4 linked regions of the Homo sapiens genome follow. The protein of the gene in region 1 purifies or fractionates together with the protein of each later gene. This does not show direct contact. Each region holds a gene or a part of one and is shown in the gene's direction. Other genes may lie near its edges.

Region 1 (3,300 bases):
TAAATCTTGAGCTCAGAGGAATGTAGTGTGTTTTCCCCTGTCCCGAAAAGCTGTGGTATAGCAATAGTGAATCTTATCATCAGTGGAATATTATAGTGATAATAATTATAGCTGATACTTAGGGGCCTCTAAACTTCTTCCAGGTGATGAAATAAACTGTCTCTGTGTATTACTTCATTTAATTCTCACAGCAACTATCTTTGGAATTTATCACTTTTATCTCCATTTCATAGACAAGGAAACTGAGTGTTGGAAGGTGAAGTGAATTGCCTAAAGTCACCAGTTCAGCAAATGGGAAATGTAGGACTTGACACCAAGACTGTTTGGCCCCAGAGGCTATGCTCTGAACCATAATGACTTCCTGTCTTCCAAAAGGCAGGCTCTTGGATCCATATCTTACTGTGCTTCTAAATTATCCTGTGACCCTGAACCTTAGTTTGCTCACCTGGGAAATGAAGGGAGGTCCTGGTTAGGTTCCCTTCAGTTCTACTCTATTGCAGTATGCTGATCTCTTTTGTAAATCTGTATTAAATGAGAGTTTGCTATCGGTGACTTTCAGAGATGACACCAGTGATGATGCCCATGCTGACGATTCATTCTGATGTCTATGAAAAGAGCAAATCCTTTAAGAGAAGATGTAGCATACCAGTGTTTATAATCTGAGTTTCATTTGATTAAGAGGGGAAGCTCTTTAGAACAAATATCATTTCTGAGCGAGAGAATGTTCAGCATCTCAGCCTCATTTGTATCATTTGATAAAAGGGCCCCACTGAGCCAAGTGTGAGGATGATGCTTGAGCCAGACACATAGACACCAGACATTCCTCTGATGTCTGCTCCCCAGGCTTGGCCACATTGCCTCCCACCAACCCCATCTCAATGACACATCCATTACCTGCCATCAGTTGGCTCTATGGTGCTGGGAATGACAGAGTGTATCTACCCTGGATTTCAGAAAGAACCCTCCTGGCTTATCATGGCAACACCCTTTGGACACTCGTTTAAAGAGTCCTTCTTTGGGCCAGTGTTATCCTTTTGGGGGCATCTGGTATGGACGGCCAATTTGAATCTGACTGGGACATGCTAATGAGCCATTCATATGTGTGGGATTTGTTTCTGATTCGATTAAGCTTCAGAGAGAGGAAAGAAACAGCCACTGATTAGAGACATAAAAAAAGAAATACTTTAAGTGAGTAAGTGGTTCATCTTCATATAGGAAAGTATAAATTAAACATGGTCCAGGAGATGTGCTTTGAATAGCAGCTGGATAGCACAAGCATGTCCACAAGGAGACGGTGCCTCACAGCAATTGAAAGGGACTTAACCCCCAAAAAGGGCTCTGAATATGCTGAGTAAATAGATGAGCCCAGTTAGCTGATAAAAATGACTCTCAGATTAGAGATGGGAAGGTTTTTATTTGGATTTTAGAAAATTGCTCCCCACTCCATCGCCGCCATATTGTCTGTGTGAGCAGAAGGGAGAGCGGCCACAGCCGCTGCCGCTTCCACCACAGTGTGAAGAAAACAGGTCTGAAACAAGGTCTTACCCCCAAGCTGCTTCTGAACACAGTGACTGCCAGATCTCCAAACATCAAGTCCAGCTTTGTCCGCCAACCTGTCTGACATGTCGGGACCCGTGCCAAGCAGGGCCAGAGTTTACACAGATGTTAATACACACAGACCTCGAGAATACTGGGATTACGAGTCACATGTGGTGGAATGGGGAAATCAAGATGACTACCAGCTGGTTCGAAAATTAGGCCGAGGTAAATACAGTGAAGTATTTGAAGCCATCAACATCACAAATAATGAAAAAGTTGTTGTTAAAATTCTCAAGCCAGTAAAAAAGAAGAAAATTAAGCGTGAAATAAAGATTTTGGAGAATTTGAGAGGAGGTCCCAACATCATCACACTGGCAGACATTGTAAAAGACCCTGTGTCACGAACCCCCGCCTTGGTTTTTGAACACGTAAACAACACAGACTTCAAGCAATTGTACCAGACGTTAACAGACTATGATATTCGATTTTACATGTATGAGATTCTGAAGGCCCTGGATTATTGTCACAGCATGGGAATTATGCACAGAGATGTCAAGCCCCATAATGTCATGATTGATCATGAGCACAGAAAGCTACGACTAATAGACTGGGGTTTGGCTGAGTTTTATCATCCTGGCCAAGAATATAATGTCCGAGTTGCTTCCCGATACTTCAAAGGTCCTGAGCTACTTGTAGACTATCAGATGTACGATTATAGTTTGGATATGTGGAGATTGGGTTGTATGCTGGCAAGTATGATCTTTCGGAAGGAGCCATTTTTCCATGGACGTGACAATTATGATCAGTTGGTGAGGATAGCCAAGTTTCTGGGGACAGAAGATTTATATGGCTATATTGACAAATACAACATTGAATTAGATCCACGTTTCAATGATATCTTGGGCAGACACTCTCGAAAGCGATGGGAACGCTTTGTCCACAGTGAAAATCAGCACCTTGTCAGCCCTGAGGCCTTGGATTTCCTGGACAAACTGCTGCGATATGACCACCAGTCACGGCTTACTGCAAGAGAGGCCATGGAGCACCCCTATTTCTACACTGTTGTGAAGGACCAGGCTCGAATGGGTTCATCTAGCATGCCAGGGGGCAGTACGCCCGTCAGCAGCGCCAATGTGATGTCAGGGATTTCTTCAGTGCCAACTCCTTCACCCCTTGGACCTCTGGCAGGCTCACCAGTGATTGCTGCTGCCAACCCCCTTGGGATGCCTGTTCCAGCTGCCACTGGCGCTCAGCAGTAACGGCCCTATCTGTCTCCTGATGCCTGAGCAGAGGTGGGGGAGTCCACCCCCTCCTTGATGCAGCTTGCGCCTGGCGGGGAGGGGTGAAACACTTCAGAAGCAACGTGTCTGAACCGTTGCTTGTGGATTTATAGTAGTTCAGTCATAAAAAAAAATTATAATAGGCTGAAAAAAAAAAAAAAGAAAATTGCTCCCCAAATCCCTATGACATTTAAGCTCATTGTCATTCTCTGGCAGCACCAGTGACAGTAATGGGGGCCAGAGATCCTATTTCAAAACAAAGAAGTGATTACAGTAGATAGCGCAGGTGTCAATGGGACCCTGATTTGGAACTTGCTAATACTTCTGTCTCTGAGTTTGGGGCTTCTATAGGGTTTTGGTTCCATAGATATGCCTGGACTTGAACTAGCTTACCTTCCCAGCCTTGTGCATCGGGAAGCTGTGAGGGTCAGATCCTTCTAGATTTTGTGTCCCCTTACAAGGGTTGGAAGAGTCTGGCTGC
Region 2 (2,871 bases), about 91 Mb from region 1:
TCGAGACACTATGCCACGCACCAATATTTTTGCAAACGTGTGTTTAACGTAGTACAATGAGTAAGACATTTGACTCAGCCATACACTCAAGGCAAAGAATTAAATGCAGGTCAGATGGGCCAAACGCTTTGAAACAGGATTTTTAGCCTTTAAATTATGAAATTAAATGGATGTTAGAGACAGAAAGTTTCAAATTCCTTTTTCATGAGGGGTAAATAGCACGTGTGTACAGTAACAGAAATCTTGGCTTTAGTATATGAGACCAGCTTTATGTGATGAGGGGCTTACTGAGTATAAACACGGAATCTGGACACAGCATTAATTCAAGTATTTGGAACTATCTTCTAGTCAAATGCAGTGATTTGAATCCAGGATTGCAAACCCTTACAGGTTATGAGTCACTACAGCACTTCACCCTTTATGATACAAATGGTTTGAACTTCCACAGTCCATGAGCAAACCTGGAGAACCGAAGTTTATATCACCAAGGTGGCATAACTAACTCTTTAGTCATTTGAACATCTGACTGTGGAAAGAAGCCCCCAACTCCATAAACAAGTCATTCTCAAAGCTTGCTGCAGATTAGAATCAACTAAGAAGCTTCCAAAGATAGACACATTTAATTGGTCTGGGATAGGGTCCTGGCATCAGTATTTTCAAAAATCTCCCTAGATGATTCTAATCTGCAGCCAGGGTACTGCACTAGCATGTGAAACTAAGAACTTAGCTGAAAATTCACTTACTGCCTATTGAAGTCTTAGGCAAGTGTTTTATCACTCTTTCTTGATTGGCAGGGAATAAGTACTGGGCTGTTCAGGGACAGAATGTGCTACACGGATACCCCAAGGACATCTACAGCTCCTTTGGCTTCCCTAGAACTGTGAAGCATATCGATGCTGCTCTTTCTGAGGAAAACACTGGAAAAACCTACTTCTTTGTTGCTAACAAATACTGGAGGTAAGTTTAAGTGCAGAGAATGTTAGGGCCTCAGTTCTTTCTACATAAAAAGTTCTAGAATAGCCCATTTCAAAGTGAGTCTCAAACTGCCTTGGCCGGCATCCTTTCCTTCAGATGGCTGGTGCCAATCTATCATCTATTTAGTCTATTGACCAATAATCATCACACAATGCCTGCACTGGGAATCCAGAGAATGTAGGGGGATGAATTTTAAAAGGATGTAGAATTGAGGACATTCATCTTAACGGAGCTACTTTGGCCAAAAGTTACTTATCTTCCATAGTATGTTACCTCGATAGGACATAGCGTAGAACCTACTGGAGAATTCGATGCTGGATTTCAGAGGGGCCTTAAAGGCCTTTTAGTTCACCCAACATTCCACCTTATCCCATCCACTCCCCATTTCACAAATGATCTATAAAATGAAATATTCTGGTTAAATTCCTCATTGTGTATTTTCTGTAATGATTTTCAGAGTGCACATGTTTAGCAAAAGGTCTGACACTCTTAACTCTTTTCTGACCAGGTATGATGAATATAAACGATCTATGGATCCAGGTTATCCCAAAATGATAGCACATGACTTTCCTGGAATTGGCCACAAAGTTGATGCAGTTTTCATGAAAGATGGTAAGTGAATATACATGTATTTCCTCCATTTCATTGCCGTAGCAATAACATCATTATTGTTAGTTGGAACAGCAAATGCCAAAAATATCTGTGCTCACAGATGAATTGGTTTCTCAAGAATTCAAGTTAAACCTAGAAACTACTTGTATAATGTAGTAAGTCTCTTTTGTTTTGTTTCTAGGATTTTTCTATTTCTTTCATGGAACAAGACAATACAAATTTGATCCTAAAACGAAGAGAATTTTGACTCTCCAGAAAGCTAATAGCTGGTTCAACTGCAGGAAAAATTGAACATTACTAATTTGAATGGAAAACACATGGTGTGAGTCCAAAGAAGGTGTTTTCCTGAAGAACTGTCTATTTTCTCAGTCATTTTTAACCTCTAGAGTCACTGATACACAGAATATAATCTTATTTATACCTCAGTTTGCATATTTTTTTACTATTTAGAATGTAGCCCTTTTTGTACTGATATAATTTAGTTCCACAAATGGTGGGTACAAAAAGTCAAGTTTGTGGCTTATGGATTCATATAGGCCAGAGTTGCAAAGATCTTTTCCAGAGTATGCAACTCTGACGTTGATCCCAGAGAGCAGCTTCAGTGACAAACATATCCTTTCAAGACAGAAAGAGACAGGAGACATGAGTCTTTGCCGGAGGAAAAGCAGCTCAAGAACACATGTGCAGTCACTGGTGTCACCCTGGATAGGCAAGGGATAACTCTTCTAACACAAAATAAGTGTTTTATGTTTGGAATAAAGTCAACCTTGTTTCTACTGTTTTATACACTTTCTATATTTATTATTGTTACTTTCTGATGACAACGCCACCCTTACAGAGACTGCTTTTCAAATTTGAAATGGGAAGTAGACAATATAAAAAATGTTCATGTGGGAAATGAGGATATACAAAAAACTCAACTATTCTCTATTCACATGGAATTTATACCATATAAACTGGGGTGGGGGAGGGGAATCCATTTCCCTTGCCCCATTTATGGATTCCAAAAGTGGTTTTAGGTAAAATCAGTGACATCATGGTAGAGCGTTCTAGGTGTATGTCATTTTGTCTCTTCTGAACATATGGGAGGGTTCCATTTTCCCACAGTCCAACTCCTTGCAGAGTTGGGTGGTGGGCAGTGGGGCATCTGACTACTTCTAGCCAGAGGGTTGAGTGAAGAAGTGACAAATATCATTTTCAGACTGGAACATTTAATTGCTGGTGGAAATTTCTCTAGTAGTCTACTCCTTCTGTCCTGTGGTAGAAGTACATCATGAGAGAGTT
Region 3 (3,992 bases), on another chromosome or scaffold:
TCCTGCTCCCAGACCCCCCCAAGCCCTGTCCCCCATCCCCTGTAGCCCAGCGCTGAGCACACTGGGGCCAGAACCACCCATACCAGACTCCCCCAGGGCACGACGGGTTGAGGCCTCTCTGAGGCAGGGAGGGACAACACTGAGGGGCCTTGTGCAGAAGAGGGAAGGGGTACCCCCCCGAGCTTCAGTTTCTTCATCTGCCCGATGAGCCCCCATCCAATGGTACCCAGGAGTGGGGATGTGCTGGGGCTAGAGGAGGGAGGCCCCCTGGAGGCTGGCTTGGGGACCCTTCAACCTGGCCACCTCACTCAGGGTCAGAGGTCAGAGCAGGCGAGCCACACACCCCGAAGTCCCCCCGGTCCTCGGCAGGTGCTGTCCCCAGCATCACTGTCTCCCCTACAGATGCCCGTGTGTCCCCTGGGCAAGAGTGAAGTGAGGCACTCATACAGGGGTGCCTTGTGAGTATGGGGTCAGCCGAGGATGCTGAGGGGCTCTCGAGGTTCAGCCAGAGTCCCTGACGCTGGGCTCGTGCTGCTCTGGGGGTCTGAAGGGACCCTCGCTATTACCCTCTGGGAGGCGCCCATCCTTGGTTTTTTTTTTTTTTTTTGCCGAGTCTCGCTCTGTTGCCCAGGCTGGAGTGCAGTGGCAAGATCTCGGCTCACTGCAACCTCCACCTCCTGGGTTCAAGCAATTCTCCCACCTCAGCCTCCTGAGTAGCTGGGACCACAGGCATCTGCCACCAAGCCCAGCTAATTTTTGTATTTTTATGAGAGATGGGGTTTCTCCATGTTGGTCAGGCCGGTCTCAAACTCCCAACCTCAGGTGATTTGCCTGCCTTGGCCTCCCAAAATGTTGGGATTACAGCCGTGAGCCACCGTGCCTGGCCTAGCAGGGCTCTTCTTATCCTGCTCACCAGAGATAGGAAGTCGGGGGGTGACTTCAGGAAAGGCCCAGAGCCCGTGATGGGCGTGGGGATTGGGGTGAGGACAGGGCTGTCGTGAGAACAGTGGCTGCAGATGTGAGCGGCTGGCAGGAAGTGGCCACTTGAACCGCAGATGCTTCCTGGGCTGGTCAGGGACCGGGGGTGCTGGCTGCAGCTGGGACCCCCCCCCCTGCATCTTGCTGGCCTGGCACCTGGGTCCCTGGGAGGCGCCACACTGGATATAGCCACGTGGGGCAGCCCGGTCTCCATAACCCACACTCCAGTCCTCCCACGGGCTGGCTGGCAAGCGGCCCTGGTGGGTCTGCGGGGGCAGGGGCAGCCTTCCTGGTTTATCTCTACCGGCGCGATCTGCTCGTCCGCCTCGGCTCCAGAAGCTGGGGCTCAGGGTCCGGCGAGGCAGGAAGCCTGAGGCCACAGCCCAGAGCAGCCTGAGTGCAGTCATGTGGGGGCGACTGCTCCTGTGGCCCCTGGTGCTGGGGTTCAGCCTGTCTGGCGGCACCCAGACCCCCAGCGTCTACGACGAGAGCGGGAGCACCGGAGGTGGTGATGGTGAGTGGTCCTGGCTTTGGGGTGCAGAGATGGGGTTACATCAGAGATGGAGCTGGGGGCCCGGAGCTGGGGAGGGGGAGGCCGGGAAGTTGCGGGCTTCAGCCCAGCCCACTCTGTATCCCGTCTCTGACCCCATAGGGCTGGGCTATTCCCTTGAGTGTCATGTCCAGCTGTTTCCCACCAGGGCAGACCCCAGGCTCTGAGCACCTCCCTCCCTGCTGCTTCTCGTCACCTGCCGAGGCAGGGGCTGACTGAGGTCCCCTCTCTCTCCCAGACAGCACGCCCTCAATCCTGCCTGCCCCCCGCGGCTACCCAGGCCAAGTCTGTGCCAATGACAGTGACACCCTGGAGCTCCCGGACAGCTCACGGGCACTGCTTCTGGGCTGGGTGCCCACCAGGCTGGTGCCCGCCCTCTATGGGCTGGTCCTGGTGGTGGGGCTGCCGGCCAATGGGCTGGCGCTGTGGGTGCTGGCCACGCAGGCACCTCGGCTGCCCTCCACCATGCTGCTGATGAACCTCGCGGCTGCTGACCTCCTGCTGGCCCTGGCGCTGCCCCCGCGGATCGCCTACCACCTGCGTGGCCAGCGCTGGCCCTTCGGGGAGGCCGCCTGCCGCCTGGCCACGGCCGCACTCTATGGTCACATGTATGGCTCAGTGCTGCTGCTGGCCGCCGTCAGCCTGGATCGCTACCTGGCCCTGGTGCACCCGCTGCGGGCCCGCGCCCTGCGTGGCCGGCGCCTGGCCCTTGGACTCTGCATGGCTGCTTGGCTCATGGCGGCCGCCCTGGCACTGCCCCTGACACTGCAGCGGCAGACCTTCCGGCTGGCGCGCTCCGATCGCGTGCTCTGCCATGACGCGCTGCCCCTGGACGCACAGGCCTCCCACTGGCAACCGGCCTTCACCTGCCTGGCGCTGTTGGGCTGTTTCCTGCCCCTGCTGGCCATGCTGCTGTGCTACGGGGCCACCCTGCACACGCTGGCGGCCAGCGGCCGGCGCTACGGCCACGCGCTGAGGCTGACCGCAGTGGTGCTGGCCTCCGCCGTGGCCTTCTTCGTGCCCAGCAACCTGCTGCTGCTGCTGCATTACTCGGACCCGAGCCCCAGCGCCTGGGGCAACCTCTATGGTGCCTACGTGCCCAGCCTGGCGCTGAGCACCCTCAACAGCTGCGTGGATCCCTTCATCTACTACTACGTGTCGGCCGAGTTCAGGGACAAGGTGCGGGCAGGGCTCTTCCAACGGTCGCCGGGGGACACCGTGGCCTCCAAGGCCTCTGCGGAAGGGGGCAGCCGGGGCATGGGCACCCACTCCTCTTTGCTCCAGTGACACAAAGTGGGGAAGGCTGTACTGGGTCGAACAGGGTCCCTTCCCCCACTTCACGTCCTTCCTGGGACCTCAGAATGTGACCTTATTTGGAAATAGGGTTGTTACAACTGTCACTAGCGGAGGTCACTTTGGAGAAGGGTGGGCCTTACATCCAGTGTGGGTGGTGTCCTCATAAGATAAGGAGAGGCCAGGCCTGGTGGCTCACGCCTGTAATCCCAGCACTTTAAGAGGCCAAGGCGGATGGATCACTTGAGCCCAGGAGTTCAACACCAGCCTGAGCAACATGGTAAAACCCCATCTCTACCAAAAATACAAAAATTAGCTGGGCTTGGTGGCTGGCGCCTGTAATCCCAGCTACTCAGGAGACTGAGGCAGAAGGATCGCTTGAACCTGGGAGGCAGAGGTTGCAGTGAGCCGAGATTGCGCCACTGGACTCCAGCCTGCGTGACAGAGAGCCTGTCTCTAAATTAATTAATTAATTAATTTAATTCAATTTTAAAAAGACGAAAAGTGACGGCCAGGTGCAGTGGCTCACGCCTATAATCTCAGCACTCTGGGAGGCCAAGATGGAGGATTGCTTGAAGCCAGGAGTTTGGGACCAGCCTGGGCAACATAGGGGGATCCCATCTCTACACACAAAAAAATTTTTTAATGAACCAGGCATTGTGGCATGCGCCTATAGTCCCAGCCACTCAAGAGGCACAGGCGGGAGGATCACTTGAGCCTGGGAGGTTGTGGTTGCAGTGAGCTATGATTGTACCACTGCACTCCAGCCTGGGCAACAGAGCAAGACCTTGTCTCAAAAATAAACAAACTAAAATTAAAAAAAGAAGACGAGAGATAGTGGGTGTGGTGGCTCACACCTGCAATCCCAGCACTTTGGAAGGCCGAGGTGGGCAGATCATCTGAGGCCAGGAGTTCAAGACCAGCCTGGCTAACATGGTGAAATCCTATCTCTACCAAAAATACAAAAATTAGCCAGGCGTGGTGGTGGGCACCTGTACTGGGGAGGTGCCCACCCAGCTACTGGGGAGGCTGAGTCAGGAGAATCGCTTGAACCTGGGAGGCGGAGGTTGCGGTCAGCTGAGATGGTGCCACTGCACTCCAGCCTGGGCGAAAGAGCGACTCTGTCTCCAAAAAAAAGAGAAGAGGAGAGGACACAGAGACACACAGAGAA
Region 4 (3,500 bases), about 21 Mb from region 1:
GTTTTTTCCCCCCTACTATACTATTTTATGCTTGGATACCCCCGCCATTAACAAATTACAAAAGTATATAGTATTGCCAGTTAGATCTGAAAGATGGAATTAGAAATGGAAATGTAATTTTACATGATAGTAAGACTTTTCTAACTACGTTTGTTGAAAACAGCATAGTCTTTATTATTTTTATCTTTGAATTTTCTTGTCTAGCGTATCAGTTCAGTAAATGTTTGTCAAATTGAATCAAATCTTATTCATCCTTATTGAGCAAACCCTACATATGTTCAATATTTTAATTTCCTTCTGGAGCATGTTTTTAACATACTAAAATACAAAGAGAAAACTCAGAAAATCTGCAGTTGAACAGGTTTTAAATGTTGTAAACTACCAGTTTCTTTACACTGGAGTCAACTGTGAAACTAAGGTGCTTTGTTCTCCTACTAGGCAATAATCAAAACACATTAGAGATTGATTATATTTTCCATATTAAGACTGAATTTTTTTTTGTTTTTGAGACTAGTCTTCCTGGTTCTTGACGATACAGATGAATGTATGGTCTATTTTGATAGTCTTCAATTTGGTAATCATTAATGCTTGTCACCTGTAAATTGTGTGCCTCCATTGGAATTGGGGAAGATTGACTTATTCTGAACATAATAAGGCATTTGAAATACACCAAGATAAAGTAGATGTAAGTGTGTTTGTGTAGAAAGCTTTGCCAGGTGCACTAGACCCAGAAAACCACATTCTGTCCCAGTTAATTTGTTTTGTGGCATGAAGCTATGTGATGGAATGTTAATGTCAGCAACCTCTTTATTTACGCACCAAGGAAAAAGGAGTAGTAATTAACACTTTGACACTCCCCCATTGATGTGTAATTGACTGTTTCAAAGGAGCACTGGTTCATAAGCTATTGCATGCATTAAAACTGGGTTTTCTATATTGCAGCATTTTAAGACAGGGGTCAGTGACAATGCAGAAATTGCTCAATGATGCACTTTTTTTATTACTGCATTAAGGTTTTGACATATTAGTAATGAATAAATGTTTCCATAAAATTAGATTTTTTATAACTTTAAAATTGAAATATGACACAGTACACTGTGACTTCCTCTTTGATGGTAGTATTTTAGTTTTATGAAACAAAGCACAGCTTCCTACAAAGTCTTTAACTCATACTTCACTGCCTTAGTAGTTTGATTTTTCAGAACAAGAGTCCTAAGGGTTTTAAGTTTGGTTCTTTGTTACTTTAAACATCAATTTAAAGTGTTTTTAGATGCAAGTTTTCACATGTAAAATAGATAACGGTTTTATGGAATTCAGCCTAGAAATAATCTTCATTCCTCTGATAAGTTTTTTCATTTATGGTAAGATTGTAACTGCAGAAAAGATAAGCAGTAAAATAGATTTAATTTCAGGAGTATTTAAAATAATAGAAATTTCAGAAGTTTCTATCACTTTATATTGAAAGAGAGTTGTCTGTCCATGCCAATAGAACTGAGAATGTTAAGGAATTTTTGAAAAAAATCTTTAATACTTATTCATTGATAAGAAAAAATTCGTTAACATTGCTAATTTATTGTGCCAGCTAGAATTCAAATTCCTTCATTTGCCTTACGTTTCTTGAACATCTATGCAAATCAGTATTCTATTAGAAATTTGTTTATATGCTTTTCAGAAAACATCTTTATATTAATGTGTATATTTTTTATTTTAATTCTATAATTAAACATTTATTACAGCTGAAAGCCTAGTGACAACTATCTAGATTCCACAAGTTGCAATCAGTTTGTCAGAACATTTTCCTTTATTAACACTGACAACTTAGGCCAACAGTAGCATTATCTTGTGTCAACTGAATTGCCCTAACATGTCCACATGTAATCTGGTGTTATCCAGTTGCTACCTTTTGCTTCAGAAAGTTAATCGGCATCTAATTTGCATTGTTAATTAGGGTTAATGTGCACTAATTGATTTCTTGGCGCCTGTAGATTTCCATTAAACCCAGTTAGCAATACTTCCTTGTATACCTCATTCATTTGAGTTATGGTGATCATGTTTTTGTTGAATCTGTGCCAAATAGGAAGCCTGTATCATAATTACAGCTAATTAACAGATGATCATGTCCTATGTTAATGGGCTTCCCTAATCTTCCACTAATATATGAATGTTATAAATTTAAAATTTATTTATGGAGTGTTTAGAGAGTGAACTTTTTAAACAATACAGACTTGAAGCTCTGAATTTATTACAGGGCACTTGATTGATCATTTGCTGATTTTACATAGTTCAAAAGTTCAGAGAAAAGGAACATGTAAATCTAGATTAGTTTTAGAAACTTAGTTTTATAATTAATAAGTTAGCATCAAAACAAGTATATATGATATTATGTTAGAATTCTGCTCCTACTTAGGACTAGGTTATATATTTAGGATTCCTAATTTTTAAAATTTCTAGCCCTTTATTTTAGAAATGAACCTATTCTAGGCCTAGCACTGCTATTTTTTGACTATAAGTCCCCATTTAATCTCTTTGCTCCTCAGTTTTGTTTTTAAAGTGAAAGGATCAGGACTGGGTAATTCCTTAAGTTTTCTTCTAGGCCTAACACATTGTTGTTATTTGAATAATTACAACAGCATGTTTCATTAGAAATTATAATGCAAAATTTGAATTATTTGTGCAATTTTCTACTTTTGTCTTATAAAGAACAAGTATCACTTTTAATGGTATTCTTTAATTATATCTAGTACTAACTGTATTGGCCTATAAATGTTAAATGACACACACACTTTGACAGTTTTGGTTTGTAAGTAGTTTTGATTTTTAAATAGTGACCTGAAGCAAAATGGAATGTTTTCATAACTGAAAATGTTTGTGAAAGTATTTTAAAACTTCAGGTTTACCAGTAATAGTAACACAGAAAAAACTAATAAGTAGATAAGAAATCCTCTGTGTTTAAATGAAGAGCTATTAGTGTGAAAAATAAGCTTAGGTAATTTAACTAAATAGAAATTGTTCTTATGAAATGTACTTTGTAGATTTTATCTCCTAAAATGTATAACTATTTAAAAATGTAAAATGTGCAAAACTTTTAGGGTCTAAAAATAATCATTTTATGGCCGATTCTTAACTTTGAATCTATCACCTATGGTACTATAGAAAAATTGTTTTTAATACTCTGTGGAGTCAGTTTATAGTTTGCAAATATAAGAAGCTTTGTCAAAATTGTTCTATATAAGTGCTCAAACAATAATTTCCACAATTACAAAAGTAAAAATAATTTCCACAGCTTAACATGAGATGTAATTGTGCAGGTCTTTAATTAGTATGAACACTCATCAGGCTTCACTATTCTGTTTTCTAGGCCTGTTACATGAACAGAATATGGCAAAAATGAGACTACTTACTTTTATGGGAATGGCAGTAGAAAATAAGGAAATTTCTTTTGACACAATGCAGCAAGAACTTCAGATTGGAGCTGATGATGTTGAAGCATTTGTTATTGA

The links.
Region 2: the proteins of CSNK2A3 (region 1) and MMP1 purify together in Homo sapiens (affinity purification with mass spectrometry, with the first as the bait; one large-scale study listed by BioGRID). This does not show direct contact.
Region 3: the proteins of CSNK2A3 (region 1) and F2RL3 purify together in Homo sapiens (affinity purification with mass spectrometry, with the first as the bait; one large-scale study listed by BioGRID). This does not show direct contact.
Region 4: the proteins of CSNK2A3 (region 1) and EIF3M purify together in Homo sapiens (affinity purification with mass spectrometry, with the first as the bait; one large-scale study listed by BioGRID). This does not show direct contact.

The regions. Positions count from the first base shown.
Region 1 is NC_000011.10:11,351,442-11,354,741, reverse strand, and holds CSNK2A3 (casein kinase II subunit alpha 3), read left to right. Parts: upstream 1-1,491; 5' UTR 1,492-1,622; coding exon 1,623-2,798; 3' UTR 2,799-2,800; downstream 2,801-3,300. UniProt on the Homo sapiens protein: Probable catalytic subunit of a constitutively active serine/threonine-protein kinase complex that phosphorylates a large number of substrates containing acidic residues C-terminal to the phosphorylated serine or threonine.
Region 2 is NC_000011.10:102,789,419-102,792,289, reverse strand, and holds the end of MMP1 (interstitial collagenase isoform 1 preproprotein), read left to right. Parts: intron 1-794; coding exon 795-957; intron 958-1,483; coding exon 1,484-1,587; intron 1,588-1,768; coding exon 1,769-1,878; 3' UTR 1,879-2,371; downstream 2,372-2,871. UniProt on the Homo sapiens protein: Cleaves collagens of types I, II, and III at one site in the helical domain. Also cleaves collagens of types VII and X.
Region 3 is NC_000019.10:16,887,807-16,891,798, forward strand, and holds the start of F2RL3 (proteinase-activated receptor 4 preproprotein), read left to right. Parts: upstream 1-1,192; 5' UTR 1,193-1,383; coding exon 1,384-1,492; intron 1,493-1,766; coding exon 1,767-2,815; 3' UTR 2,816-3,992. UniProt on the Homo sapiens protein: Receptor for activated thrombin or trypsin coupled to G proteins that stimulate phosphoinositide hydrolysis. May play a role in platelets activation.
Region 4 is NC_000011.10:32,597,331-32,600,830, forward strand, and holds part of EIF3M (eukaryotic translation initiation factor 3 subunit M), read left to right. Parts: intron 1-3,358; coding exon 3,359-3,500. UniProt on the Homo sapiens protein: Component of the eukaryotic translation initiation factor 3 (eIF-3) complex, which is required for several steps in the initiation of protein synthesis.